Linked DNA regions of Homo sapiens. The protein of the gene in region 1 purifies or fractionates together with the protein of each later gene. This does not show direct contact. Each region holds a gene or a part of one and is shown on either strand. Other genes may lie near its edges.

Evidence for each region.
Region 2: the proteins of KERA (region 1) and FBXO21 purify together in Homo sapiens (co-immunoprecipitation; 3 studies listed by BioGRID and IntAct, with this or other methods). This does not show direct contact.

What each region holds. Positions count from the first base shown.
Region 1 is NC_000012.12:91,048,906-91,055,203, forward strand, and holds the end of KERA (keratocan precursor), read right to left. Parts: intron 2,614-6,298; coding exon 2,441-2,613; 3' UTR 1,586-2,440; downstream 1-1,585. UniProt on the Homo sapiens protein: May be important in developing and maintaining corneal transparency and for the structure of the stromal matrix.
Region 2 is NC_000012.12:117,151,911-117,160,174, forward strand, and holds part of FBXO21 (F-box only protein 21), read right to left. Parts: intron 6,175-8,264; coding exon of another isoform or gene 6,154-6,174; coding exon 5,963-6,153; intron 4,039-5,962; coding exon 3,881-4,038; intron 1-3,880. UniProt on the Homo sapiens protein: Substrate-recognition component of the SCF (SKP1-CUL1-F-box protein)-type E3 ubiquitin ligase complex.

The DNA of each region.
Region 1 (6,298 bases):
ACAGATAAGAGAACACTGAGGCATACATAATTTAAAGGTTCTGCCCAGGATATGAAGCCAGTAAGTGGCAAAGCTGGGATTTGAACTCAGCAACTTTAGCTTCAATGTTAGTGTTCTTTACCACTGCATGATGTTACTCTACAATGAAAATAATCCCTTATGATTTAAAACTCTTCAGTGACTTTCAAATTATTCCTAAGGACTAGAATCTTTAAATTCGGCGTGGAATATTCTTCCCTTCTACCTTGTGCTGCTAAGTACTTTTAGTCTTTTATATGTTTCCTTAATCATTATTTCTTTAGGGAATCCTTCTCTCAAATCACTATTATTAATTCCTTCGCAGCATGCAGCTGTCTGTTAATATTTATCACATATGAAATTGTACATATTTTTTGTGATTTTCAGTTAATTTGTGTCTCACTGTAGAATAAACCATAAACAATATTATTTCATCTGTGTGTAATACAGTCATATATATGGTACTCAAGAAATATTTAAAGAAGGAGGGAAGGTAGAAAATTCTTAGAGTTGAAAAGTTCTTGGAGAAACATACCATGACAATGTTATTTCCACATAGGACTCCATTTTATACTCTGCCTCTTGAATTACCACTTATTCACTGTTTGAAGTCCAGAGGTGGGTAACTCTACCTCAAGAAAAGTTACTTCCATTGCTGGGTGACTTGGAACAATATCAGAAAATTCTTTCTTAACTAGAGCCAAAATATGACTTCTTATCAATTTTAACCATATGTTCTACTCTTCATTTTGGGGCTTCCTGGCATATGTTTTGTGCCCTTTTCAAATGGCATGTTTTCAAATATTTAAAGTTATGTTCCCCTTCACATATTTTTTCTCAGTCTAATGATATCTGATTACTTCTATTTTTATGACATAATTTTTATAATTTTATTTATGTGCTTTGAGGTCATTTAAAACACTTTTCTTTTTGTTAATGTCAATTGATTTGATTTATTACTTTCAGCCAGCATTTTAAAAACTATGTTCAAAGTTTGTTGATCGGTTCTCCTTTCTCAATCTCAAATAAGTTTTGGTGTAAAAATAAGTAGTAAGTTTTGTATAAGGTTATAGTAAGGATTGGTTCTTCTTCACCCTCAAATAAATTTGGTGTAAAAACGTAGTTGCACATTATATTATTTTCTTGGAAATTTACATTATAAAATAGCATATTACGTTTCTGAGAGGCTTTGAAGTAAACAATTGGACATTTTTAACCTAGTGTTTTACAAATATATATAATCATTTTTCTGTGGAAATATGCCAGATTTGTAGGATTTTAAAGAATACTGTTGGGAAAATGTATATAAAGGCATCCATTGATCTTTATGGAATACAGATTGCTTATAACATATGTTTGTAAAGTCATAAGGCTAATGTAAAGTACACGGTACTTTGTTACTTAATGAAATTCTGTTTTTCTTAATTCACAAAAATCAGAAATATGTCAAGTGATTAGAATAAAAACTTTTTTATGTTTTCTGGAAGAAAAGGAAAATGAAGGTAGGAGTAAACATATTTGAATATATTTATGCCAGAAAAATGAAAATAATTTTTACTATAACACATTTTTATTAAAACATGTTCTTTAATGAAGCTTGCTAATTTCTTTGAAATATTCTGTTTTGTTAGAAAGCATTCAATATTTTTATTTAGAAAATCCAAAAAACACAATCAAATATAAAGAACAATTTGCAGTTTAAGTGGATTTCAAATGTTAAAACACTAAGATTCCACAAGAAATGCATTATAATAAACATAAAATTTAGAACTTATAAGAATGCAGTGGACTATATCTAAAAACAACAGCTACAAGAAATGGTAATGAACTAGAAGTGACTGCTGTTTCATTATTTGATATTAAATAACAAGAATTCTTTAGTGATGAAGTATTTGATTCATTCCATACCCATTCTCAAGCTAAATATCAAACTTGTACCACCAACAGCTACTTAGCAATCTGCAATTGTTTTATTATGATTACAATTAAGAAATATTTTATTTTCTCATTTTCTTCAGGTCGTTATCCTCCTGTTTGATTATTACATTTATACTGTAAATTACGGTATCTGCATAAGTAATTTTAAACATACACAAATGTGTCCTTTTTATTGTATAAGAATGTAATTGTTTTCTTTAGTGTTAATAAGCTATGGAAGAGACCAAAATAAAACTATCTTTGAGTTGATAAACTATCTTAACTCTGTGTCTGTTTTATTAATTAAAAGAAAAGCAAATTAATGCAGGCTGTGATGCATGTAACTGGCAAAAGCATCTTTGAATAGAAAAAATACACTGCACAAATGAAAATGGTGGCCGAGAGCAATGGGGAATATGACTTGTGTCCTAAACCTATTAATGGTAACCACATTTCATGTCAGAAACAGCTCATTAAACTAATTTTAGATTTGGTGAGAATGTGTTTAAATAATGACAGCCTGCAGAAGTCTGAAGCAGGTCATTAAAGCCATTGGAATTGGTGGTTTGATTTCATTTCCATCCAGACGGAGGTAGCGAAGATGAGGTCCATAACTGAAGGAATCTCGTTCTGCAGGCAGCATGGATGGGCTGGGACATATTACAGAGACATTCACACCTACAGTGACAAAGAGAATAGATGAATGAATTGGAACACAAGAGAAACTAACAGTGGGAAGACCAAAAAACTAATGCCATGGTCCTATGGAGGGCTTAGTGGCCTAATATATGAAAATAGTGGTTATACAAAACATTTGTGTCAGTGAGAAATTGTGCCTATCTGTTTCCCCCAAACAAAAGTTCAGCAAACTTAACAGTCATCTCAGTCCATGTTCTGCTACTTAGTATAGAGCACTAGTAAGGAAATACTGTTAAGATCTGTGATAGAAACAAATGTGTATAAGACGTCACTTGTTTTCTAAATTTGCAGGTAAGATAAAGCACATTTAGATTGCTGTAGGTAGGATTTAGGGCATCAGAGGTGGAGACAACAGTTCAGATTTGGGACTGAAAGAATGGGTAAGTACAAGAGTAGATGGATGGATGGATGGATGGATCCTGGATGGGTAAGTAGAAAATCAATCTAATATAAAAGAAAATGCTTGAAAATTACCTTAAAAGATGCAAAATAGTGTGCATAACATGATTTTAAAAGTACAATTAACATAACTTTACATAAGCAATACAGAAAACAATCTTGAATCTTCATCTTCAAATTTATTTAATTGGAAACTAAAATTTTGCTAAGAATTGAATGACAAAGAACTCAAGCCAGAAAATATCCCAGCAGCCTTTTCATATGGTTAGGATGGGAGTAATTGTGCACCTGCCTTGGATCAAAGCCCTTGGCACCAATGACTATGCTGAGATTTAGGAACATACAGGAGAGAAGGCCAGTTAAACTAGCAAAATTCAGGGTACTCTGTAACAGCTGATTTCAACCATGAATCCATATATTACCTTTAAATTCCTTTTCAAAACCATTCCAAACAAGAGATCTTCCCTGATTAGACCCACTGAACTTGGGCAATGCCCCTCCTCTGTGGCCTATTGTTTTATATAGATTCATATTGTAGTGAATAATTTTATGTTTCCAGCAAGGTTGCTTTGCTTTGAATTTATGCCATTTTGTAAACTGAATTTAATAAAAATAATGACTCATTTGAATAGCAGTTTAGTTGTTATAAAATCAGGTTCTCTTTTTTTACATACATCCAAGTATCACCTGATCATCTCACAGGCTTTATCAGCCAATATTATTATTCTACATACCTGGGCATTTTGTGGGAATTCTGGTTCAGAGAAATAAGGAAATGCACACAACTTATTTCAGAAAGTAAGTGGCAGAGCTGAGACCTGGCCGATTCTTTCTAATTCTACAATGTGTCTCTTGCCCAAAAGAATATGTCCCTTTCGATGTGCAATCCCCTTATCCTCATCAAGCTCATGTCCCATAATCAATGTATGTCTGAATAAATGAATATAAAAAAGAAGTATTCTAAATTTAATTACATTTTCATAAATTACAGTGTTTCTCAGGGAACACCAGAAAGTAATGTAGTTGAGTAAATAACATTTTTACCTAATCTTAAATCCCTGAAAGTTTTCAGAAAAATAAATATTTCCATCATATTGCTTAAGACAAGTTCACTGTCTCATAAATTTTGATGTCTTTTCATAGAGGAGATATGTTTCTTAGAGACCACTTTGTTACAACTAGAGTAGATGATGTGGCTAGAAGAAGCAAGTACTTAAACAGTTTTGACACAGTGTGATATTATTATATCAATATTCTCTCCAGGGAAACTCTTATATTTATTTTCTTAAATATTGAAATGACAAAATTTGATATCTACATTAAAAAGTAAATAACTAGATTTCTCTTTGTTGCTTTTCTACTGATAGAATTTTTTAAAAATTTGTATTCATGACAATGAAGGAAAGTATTGTTATTATACTGTATGAGTGAAAAAAACACTTCAGACTCAGGTTCTGGCTATTGCATTTACCCTTTGTCCTTGGGCAAATATCCTCCCCTAGCTGATCTTCAGTTTCTCTCTTTCAGAAATTCCTAATAATATCACACAAGTTTCTCGCAAGGATTAAATAGTAGTTCTCAAATCGTGAGCCAGCAACATCAATACTATTAATACCTGGGGAGTAAACTGTGAGGCCCAACCTCTGACCCAGCAAGTCAGAAATTCTGGGGGTAGGAAACAGCAACCTGGGTTTATAAGATCTCCAGGTGATTCTGATGCACACTCAGATTTGAGAACGATAGAAAATTAGAAACCTATGAGAAAACACTTTGATAAAACTCTAAAATGTGGGTCTATACTACACACATAATACTCCATAAGCTAAAGTCTTATACTTCTCAACTGTGTTTTAAATACTGCTGCCTCACTCCTAAACACCCTAATTCACAAATGCTCAGGATGAAATGCATAATTTGTAAGCAAGGGCTCTATGTGGAGTCACTTGAAGTTTACTTCCCACATCAATTGTCCGTGGGGCTTTTAAGGAATGTACCTGTAATATACCTGTAGAAGCACAGAACACTCGTCAGGAAAAATTATGTATTTAGGTCAATATTGTTGTTGTTCTATTTGATTCAGCTAAACAGATTCATCTCTTAACATTTTTTTTCTGTTGCATCTTTTGTTTTTGACTACAGGATTAAACAATACATTTCATCACCATGGAAAAATAACCGCTATGATGGCAGGCTGCCATTTAATTCCTGGATTGTAGACTCAAGTACACTGTTATTTAACTCCCCCCACCAAAAAAACAAAAATTCTTAAATAACTGAGCAGTTCCCAGTGGAAAAATAGTCTGTTCCTATAAATGATATGTTTATGTGATTATTTGCTTAAAAAGCTTTAGTGAGTAATACCCAGGCAGCACAACCTTTTGACAAATTATCTTTGTTATTCTCTTACAAACTATCCTGACTGAATATTACTTTTGGAATGCATTTTCTTAGGTTGTCCTGGAGAAATCTCCCCAGAGTTATTTTTAAAGGGTCTACTCTGAGTTTGAAGATGCATAGATAAATGCCAGGCTAGGTATCGTACCCCTGTGGCTGGACCTATTTTTACACCAAGTCCAGCCTAGTCTCATGCATAATTGTGAAGAAGCCAAGTTTGTCTCTAATGTGTCCAACATCTGCTTTCTATAATCACTTCTTCTCTTGATGATGCCTCTGCCTCCAAAAACTTTGAATTCATCTCTCACTCCCTTATGAAAAGCTCTTTTCAGGAAAGGAGAGAGTATTCTACCTGACGATTGCCTGTAAGTCCCAAGGAGTTGCCAGCTACCAGGGAAATTTCTTTCCATTTTAATTAATAAAGCCTTAAACTATAGTAGTGGTTCTCAATGTGTAGTTCCCAGAACATCAACTGGACGGCTGTTAGAGATGAAAATTCTCAAGTCTCACTCCACATCTACTGAATCAGAAATTCTGGGGGTGGAGTCACCAGCCTTTACACACTTGTTTGAGACTCCCACTGTAATTAGCGGAGTTTAATTAGAGACTCCAATTAGGAGGGTTTCAGGCATCAGCTGTCATATAGTGTTTAGGACAAAGATGCCTTCCTAATGCCTCTTAAATCATATTTTCTTTATTACTAGTCATGAGGTTGTTTGTGCCTGGTATGGTTTCTTAAATAAGCCTACCCAATGGGGCAGAAATATTGGAATCTCCTGGAGTAAAAGAAGATAGAGGCATTCAGTTTCTCTAATGGATAATAGTCCTCTGTAGATGACTCAAGTCCACTTTTTAGTCTTCAGTTTGAAGA
Region 2 (8,264 bases), about 26 Mb from region 1:
AGGATCTTTACAGGATGCTACAGAGTGACCACGTGGATTTCTTAATTGAAATAGTGAGTCACTATCTTAGCCAAGTGACCAAACTCAGTATCACTCACAGGGGGCCCCTGATGAGACCCAGTGGGAAGCACGGGGCGAGGGATGTGAAGTATCCTCCCCAAGAATTCTTATCCCGATCTAATCAGGACTCAGACTTCACTCCCAGCTGGCAGACATCATACAGTTAAGGAACCAATGAGGCAAATCCAAAATGTTATACAATTTACAAGACAATGGCCAGGCACGGTGGCTCACACCTGTGATCTCAACACTTTGAGAGGCTGAAGCGGGCAGAATGCTTGAGTCCAGGACTTCGAGACCAGCCTGGGCTACATGGTGAAACCCCATTTCTACAAAAACACAAAAAATAGCCAGGTGTGGTGGTGCATGCCTGCAGTCCCAGCTACTTGGGAGGCTGAGATAGGAGGATCAATTGAGCCCAGGAGGTTGAGGCTGCAGTGACTCATGTTTGTACCACTGCACTCCAGCCTGGGTGACAGAGCACCCTGTCTCAAAAAAAAAAAAAAATTTACAAGACAACCAGTCTGGATTCTTCAAAAAGTCAAAGTCATATGAAAAAGGGGGGAAAAAAAATGAAGAATGAGGAACTGTCTTTAATAAGAGAGACTAAAGAGAAAAAAAACAACCAAATGCAGTGAATGAATTCTGGTTGGATACTGATTTTAAGAAACAAGCCAAAAATAGGCATAAAGTTATTTTGTGACAATTGAGAAATTTGAAAACTATTAGATATTATAAAATAATTGTTACTAGGTGTGATAATGTAATTTGGTTATGCAGAGGAATCTCCTTATACTCAGACATAATTAGGTCATGTCTGCAATATTCTTTCAAATGGTGCAGGAAAACAGTAAAATCTCTATAGATAAAGCAAATATGGGAATCATTTACTGTTGAATTGACTAGAGGGTAAATGGGGGTATTTGATGTATTCTTTTAACTGTTCCACGTGCGAGCAAGAATGATGACTTCAAAGAAGATGAACGGAAGTGGGCTGGAGTATGTCAGGCGTGGGAACCGTGCTGGGGCTGTAAGGGGAAGGCCAGATCCCTAGGGCCTGGTAAAGCATTCTGCACTGCCTGCCGATGAGAAACTCCTGATGGTCAGTCAATTCAAGCAGCAAGTGGCCCGGTCCAGGGACACGCTAGGAAGATCCTCTTGCTGTTGCTAAGGAAAATGCCCGGTTGGGGACAGGCCGGGAGGCAGGTGCCAGTTAGGAAGTAGGCAAGCAGAGACCACCAGAATGGAAATGGGAGACACATGAGGAGACAGCAGTGGGTGTGTAGACAGATGTATCGCGAGGGCAAGGGGAGAAGAGCAAGACACGGCCCCCACGTGGTGTCACTAGTGAGATGGGGCAGGCAGGAGCAAGGGGGGTATGGGGGCACAATGAGTTCATGTTTTTTCTTTCTTTACAGAGATAATCGAGTTAAAACAATGGGTTCAGTGAGTCGGGGTAACAATGTTGGAGAGAAGACCCCTGAGAGCCCTCCAAGCACACATGCCCGGGGGCTGTTACAGAGGTGGGCACGGAGCCCAGAGAAGAGCCCAGAGAACACGGCTTTGGGAGTCACCAGCACATCCACAGACACCCCAAGGGGGAAGGAGATGAAGGCCTAGAGGAGAGTCCCCTGGAGAGGGAGGACCCTGAAGACAGCCACGTATCAGGCATGCTGGGGGAGATCTGCCCCTTGGCCCAGGACTCCGAGTCCCTCAGGAAGCGCTTGCTGACACAGCGCTGATGGAGCCGCCGGCAGAAGACGGGAACTCTCATAGTGTAGGAACAGCTTTGAAGTTCTACGTTTTAAATTCAAGAAGCCAATTTGCTAACATTACCCATCATTTAGTTCCATCTCAATTTAACAGATGGTAAAACCAACAAGCAGATATTAATTTTTTCAGTAATGACAATTTTATGACTAAACCTTACATTGCATGTTTACCTAGATATGATTAGAGATCAACTTCTGAAGTGAACATATCACAACCCCTAAAACCAAATACTTAAGACCAACCCTAAACAGTGAATAATGATGCCATGTGGTAAAGCCATAGACACTGGCCCACGGTGTTGTTGAAAAGAAAATGCTCATTTATTCTTGTGAACGCCATTTGTTGTAGGCTATCAAGCGTTTACCAGGTGACTTGTGCTGGCACCAGTGGCCCAGTGAATCAGTCAATAATGTCCAAATCATGTGTTGATTTTTAGAGATTGTTTATATTCGACACAGCTTCAAAAGTTAAATAACATTACCGTTGGTGCCTCCATCTGCCACAGGGAGCACAGAAACCCCTTACACCATCCCCATCACACTGAGACAGGGCAAGCGACCTGCAGTTTCAACAAACATTTATCTTGATGCTGCTGTTCCAGGGGATCCTTTCAGTTTCTGATTAACTGACAATAATCATTATTTTCCAGCCTTTTATTTTAAGATGAGGTCTCACTCTGTCACCCAGACTGGAGTGCAGCAACACAATCAGAGCACACTGTAGCCTTCACTTCCCAGGCTCAAGTGATCCTCCCAACCCAGCTTCCTGAATAGCTGGGACCACAGGTGTACACTACTCTGCCTGGCTAATTTTTAAATTTTTTTGTAGAGATGGGGTCTTGCTGTGTTGTAGCTGGGAACACAGGTGCACATGACTCTGCCTGGTTAATTTTTAAATTGCAGAGATGAGGTCTTGCTGTGTTGCCCAGGCTGGTCTCCAACTCCTGAGCTCAAGCAATCCTCCTGCCTCACCCTCTCGAAGTGCTGGGATTATAGGTGTGAGACACCTCACCTGGCAATCTCCAGCCTTTCAGAAAGTTCTGAGGTTTTTATACATCCCATATTTTGATTATTGGATTTATCAGAACATAATATTGAGTTAGGTCAAAACTCAGACATGAGCAGGTACAGCATGATGGATGAAGAGGAGGCTCTGTCAAGCTGCCTGGCTTCAAATCGTGTTCTCTAAGTTAAAATCTCAATGGCTTCCCTGTGCCTCAGTTTCCTCACCTAGAAAATGATGATGATGATGTTTCTCAAATGGAGTTAATATACATTAGAATGATGTCCGTCACAGAATGGCACTACATTAGCATTCACATTCATTTTTATTAATAAATGTGAATTATTAATTAATCAATGTGAATGCTTTGACAGACATACACTGAATTCATCCTATTAAGTAGAGGTGAAATTCAACAGGAACAAAGAGAAGGGAGACTCACACTGAAGGCATTCTTGTCTCTTACCAGCTTCCACAGGCTCTGTCAGTCTCCACCTCAGCCTTGCCCTGGGCTGGCACCTGCCGGGGCGGCAGTGGCCCAGACGCCTACCCAACCTTACTGTACACTTGCGGGCTCTCAGGTGCTCCCAGGGCCGGCGCAGTGGGCTGCAGTTCCCACAGGTGGCCACACGAGGGCATCTCCGGCGTCAGCCGGCAGCCACAGCCTTGGGAGGCCAGGGAGCACTAGGGGGCCCCCAGGTGTTCATCCGGTTCCCTTCTAGTCTGGGAGGAGCCGAGGGCAGGGTCCAGGAGGCAGGACTTACAGGAATTTGATTGGCATAGACAGTGGCCAATCAGATGTCCGGGCTGTGGGAGCGGAGGCCCTGGGGGAGGGCGGGTATGACTACTGACCCCTCGCCAGGGCGGCACCTGTGCAGACCCAGCCACGTTTAGCTGACTGTGGGCCCGAAGGAGGCCGGCCATGGGGCGTCGGCCGCCTCTGAAGGAACCGATGGCCCACGCCCACAGTACCTACCCGAGGGCTCAAACGTGCGCTGAAAACACGCCCGCGGGGCCACTGGCACAAGCGGAACCCGCCGCTTACCTTGGGCTGCGTATCGACAGGAGCCGTCCTCCACCAGCACGTTATAGAAAGGCTGGTGGTGGCCGTGCGGCAGGCTGTGGACGTTCATGTTCCGGATCCACTCGTGTCCCATCATGCAGGTGGGGTCCCAGCCGTAGATCACACAGTTATAGCCATACCTAGTTAACACAGGAGGAGCAGTCAGTCCCTGCAGACCCGGCCGCAACAACCTCCAGACAACCGCGTGGCTTCTCAGCTCACATCCTCAGTTACCTGCTTTACTCCACGGTGAATCATTTTTCAGGACACCCCTAACCCCTTTTATAAACACCTCTTATTATCAACATAGCACTTTATCTGGAAAAGAATAAACTTTTCAACAAAAAGTGATTAGATGACAACTGGTTACCCAAAAGAAAAAGGTATGGGGACCTGGCCTGACAACAGCACACCAAATTCAATTCTCAGTACAGCAAAGACTCAGGTGTTAAATGCAGAACTTCTAAAATAGAAAGTATCTTCATGACTCAAGATAGGGAAGGTTTGTTAAAACAAGGCACTAAAAATACAGCCGTAAAGGAAAAGACTAACCAATCTGACATCACTAAAACCAAGAGACTAACAAATCCTGATCCAAACATGTAAAAATATGAGACAACTGGGGAAATAGGAACTCTCATTAGATACTGCATGAAGTTAAGGAACTGGGGTTTTCTAGATGTGATAATAAGATGTTAAATATGAAAAGACAGAGAAGGAGAGAGCACCCCTGCCTTTTAGAGGTACATACTGAAATCGCTACAGGTGAAATGGCATCTGGCACTTGCGTCAATTAACCCAGGGAGGAAGGTCTGGAGGGTGCAGGGGACAGTAAGATTCACCCCGTATGGCAGCTGTTGAGGCTGGATGACAGGAACACCACCTGGTTCCTTATAGTCCTTTCTCTCTTATAAATCTTTGCAAATTTCCATTTAAAAGTTTAAAAAAATGCAATAAAGAATGAAAACCACCAGCCAAAAACTGGGAAAAGATATTTGCAACTTATCGTCATGTAGATACTGATACACAGAAGAACAACTACATATCATATTAGGGAGGACTAATAACTCAATAGAAAAAAATACACGAAATGGGCTGGGTGTGGTGGCTCACGCCTGTAATCCTAGTACTTTGGGAGCCTGAGACGGCAGATCACTTGAGGTCAGGAGTTAGTGACGTGCCTGGCCAACATGGTGAAACCCTGTCTTTACTAAAACACAAAAAATTAGCCAGGCGTGGTGGTGTGCGCCTGTAGTCCCAGCTACCTGGGAGGCTGAGGCATGAGAGTCGCTTGAACTGGGAGGCAGAGGTTGCAGGTGAGCTGAGATACAACACTGCACTCCAGCCTGGGCAACAGACCCAGACTGTCTCCAAAGAAAAAAAAAAAAAGAAAAAAAGAAAAGAAAAATGAAATGTTTGAATAGGCGCTTAATAAAAGGAAATTTGGAACTTGGATAGCCAGTAAATATATGAAAAGAACCTTAACGTGTTTAGTAACCCAGGAAACAGAAATTAAAACCACAGTGAAACACTATTTGCCCTTTCTCAGGTAAGTACACTTTTAAAGGTCTGGCAATAGCACCAGGCGAGAATAGGAACTCCAGGCTCCCAGCCTGCTGGTGGGATGTAAACTGCTCCAATCACTTTGGATACAGTTTAATTTTGCCTGGTAAATAGACCAAGTGCCTATCGGATTTGAAGAGACTGAGATTAAGTGACAAGATATAAGAACAATGAGGAAATGAGAGAAAAAACTCGTGTCTTACAAAGTTACTTCCATGTTCTCACACACAGAGAAGGGTCAAACATCTAAAGGCCACTAAAAACACTAGAAGATCTCTCAGGAAAGTAAGCTGCTGCTTAAAAAACACAAAGGTCAAAGACACGGTTCAAAAAGAAAAAAAAAGAGGTTCAGCTTTCTGTCTTCCCCGCGGTGCGCACTCGGGGGATAAGTGATCCAGTCAGCTCCTCCTCCACTGTGTCCTGGGGGCTCACCAGGTGCATGTGTGTCTCTGCAGCCCCTCTGGAACGGACACTGCAGGACAGATGATCCCGGGCACTCACCTCTTATGCTTCATAATGAGCCCGATGGAGTAGCAGACATCTCTGTGCTTCTCATCGGAGCGCAGCTTCACCTCTACGCCCACCTCCTCCTTTTTGCGCTCAATGTGCTCTAGAGTGTGCTGCACCAGGTAGCCCACCGCCCCGTGCTGCCCCGGGTCTAGGGTTTGGATGTGCTGGAGGATGTCAAGCACCTTCAAAACAAGACAGAAAGACTAAAAGATAATATTTTCAGCTAGGCCTTTTCTTTTTTGCGGCGAGGGATTTAGACCTACCTACGTAACCTAACAAAGCAAAGGACCAAAAGGGGTGGCTATGCCCTGATCGAACCGGTCCAGGTCTCTGGACCATCCTCTGATGGACCGCCACCAAATCGGCACTGCAGATGCCCAGGGTTGGGCTCTACTGTAACACTGGCAGCTGGCCCAGGATACCCCAATTCAACCAGTGTCAACCTGAGGAGTTCTTTGGAAACCAGTGTGCTGGGATAAGCGCTGGGGACGCAGGTGAGGGCCCACCACCTAGGGCACTCTGGATGAGGTGGGCTCTAACAGCACCTAGCATGCTTGGTCGGCATGGGAAATGTGAGAATCCACGTTTTTTCAATACACAGGAATGATTTTCACTTGCCACTCACGAATTCAGAGGGGAAAAAAAAATGCTAAATTGCTTTAATCGAGACGAAGAGGATGTCTGACACAACTGCCTCAGTGCTGGAAAAGATGGAAAAGGTCACAGAGTGGGCACCAAAGGGATGCATTCGTTGAGTTTATGAAGCTACACTAGAAGGAGGGAGCCACGTATATCAGAGTTCTAAAATCCTGCTGGTCACTTCAGTGGTCTTAACTCATCATGGTATTTGGTATTCAGCAGGCAGCAGGAGAAACTACATCTATGCAGAGGTTAAACTAGTAGCACAGAGTAGCAGCCCTGTCTGACTCCACTATTACCGCCTCTACTGCACACAGTGCCTCTGTGGAAAAAACTCCACGTTTAAAAAGACACAGACATACAATTATTTCGCACCCATTACGTTTACAGCCCTTAGCATAGAATTTCTGACAAGGTTCTCCTTCCAATTTACTGAGTCCTGGATTACAGCCTGCTTAGTGCGTTACAGCAACCTGGACTCTAGGCCCAGATCGGTCAGACTAGCTGGCGTTTTTACCTCTGAATTCCTTTCTTAGCTTATCAAATCATGAGTAATCACTGTCCTATTTGCTGATGCATTGTGAGCCTGTCAAAGTATTGTGAAAACTCCAGTTTTATGCACCATGTTATTATCTTGCCTTTCAGACTGCGACGTGCTGGACCTCAACATTTACTGAACACTATTCTCTGCTGGTCACTGTGCCAAGTCCATCAGGTTTTTTGTTTCACTTAATCCTTCCCATTTGAAGGTCAGTAATTTCTTGATCTTCAAATTGGGAGGATTAGGTGGAAAAAAAAAAAAAGCTTTTAATCACTGCCACTTCCCGAACAGGACTCAGGCTTAGTGAAGTGACTTTCCCGGGGTCACAGGGTTGTGGAGAGGTGGAGTGAGGCTGTGGCTCTGGGTGTGAAGATCAACTCTTGGTCTCAACCAGTGTCATATCCTAGCAAGAGCAGGAGCATTTTAAATTAACTACTACAAAAAGTTCCAAACACATAAAAATGGACAAAGCAGTATAATCCCAAGTACCCCAAACCCAGTTTTGACAAGAATCAACAGACAGCCAATCCCCCTGTGCCTCTACCTCCAGCCGGGTGCTTTTAATTGTGGGACACTCGCAGATTTACCCTTTACTTTAATAGGAAGCGCCTACTGACAGTGCCTGCATAATGGCTGTCCTTGTGGCCTGAAAGAGTACCAACAAGCCGCTTTTTCTGCCCCTCCACTGTGTTCCACACACACAGCTCCCCTTCTCTCCTAGCAGCCACCTCCCCATCAGATAAGTAAAATGGTCAGAACTTGGCATCGTCAGAGAACAGAGGAAGTCTAGATAAGGTCAAGGATAATTACCCCCACCTTCGCTGGATGTGTGGCTGAGCGCGAAGGGAGAGGGCAGAAATGAAGACATTGTGCCTCGGGGCCTGGCGTATTTGCAGACAGTGTTGACCCAGGCACCATGCCGTCCCCACCAAATACTCTAGGGCTAGAATGCCGCAAGATCACCACTTCTGGGGTGGAGATCCTGGATTGGGGTCTATTACCCATGATGCATTTCCCTATACTGCTCTTCTCCCTCTAGCCTAGGGGTTGGTAAACTTTTTCTGTAAAGGGCTAGAGAAGAGACACTAGGCTTTGGGGGCTACACAGTCCCTG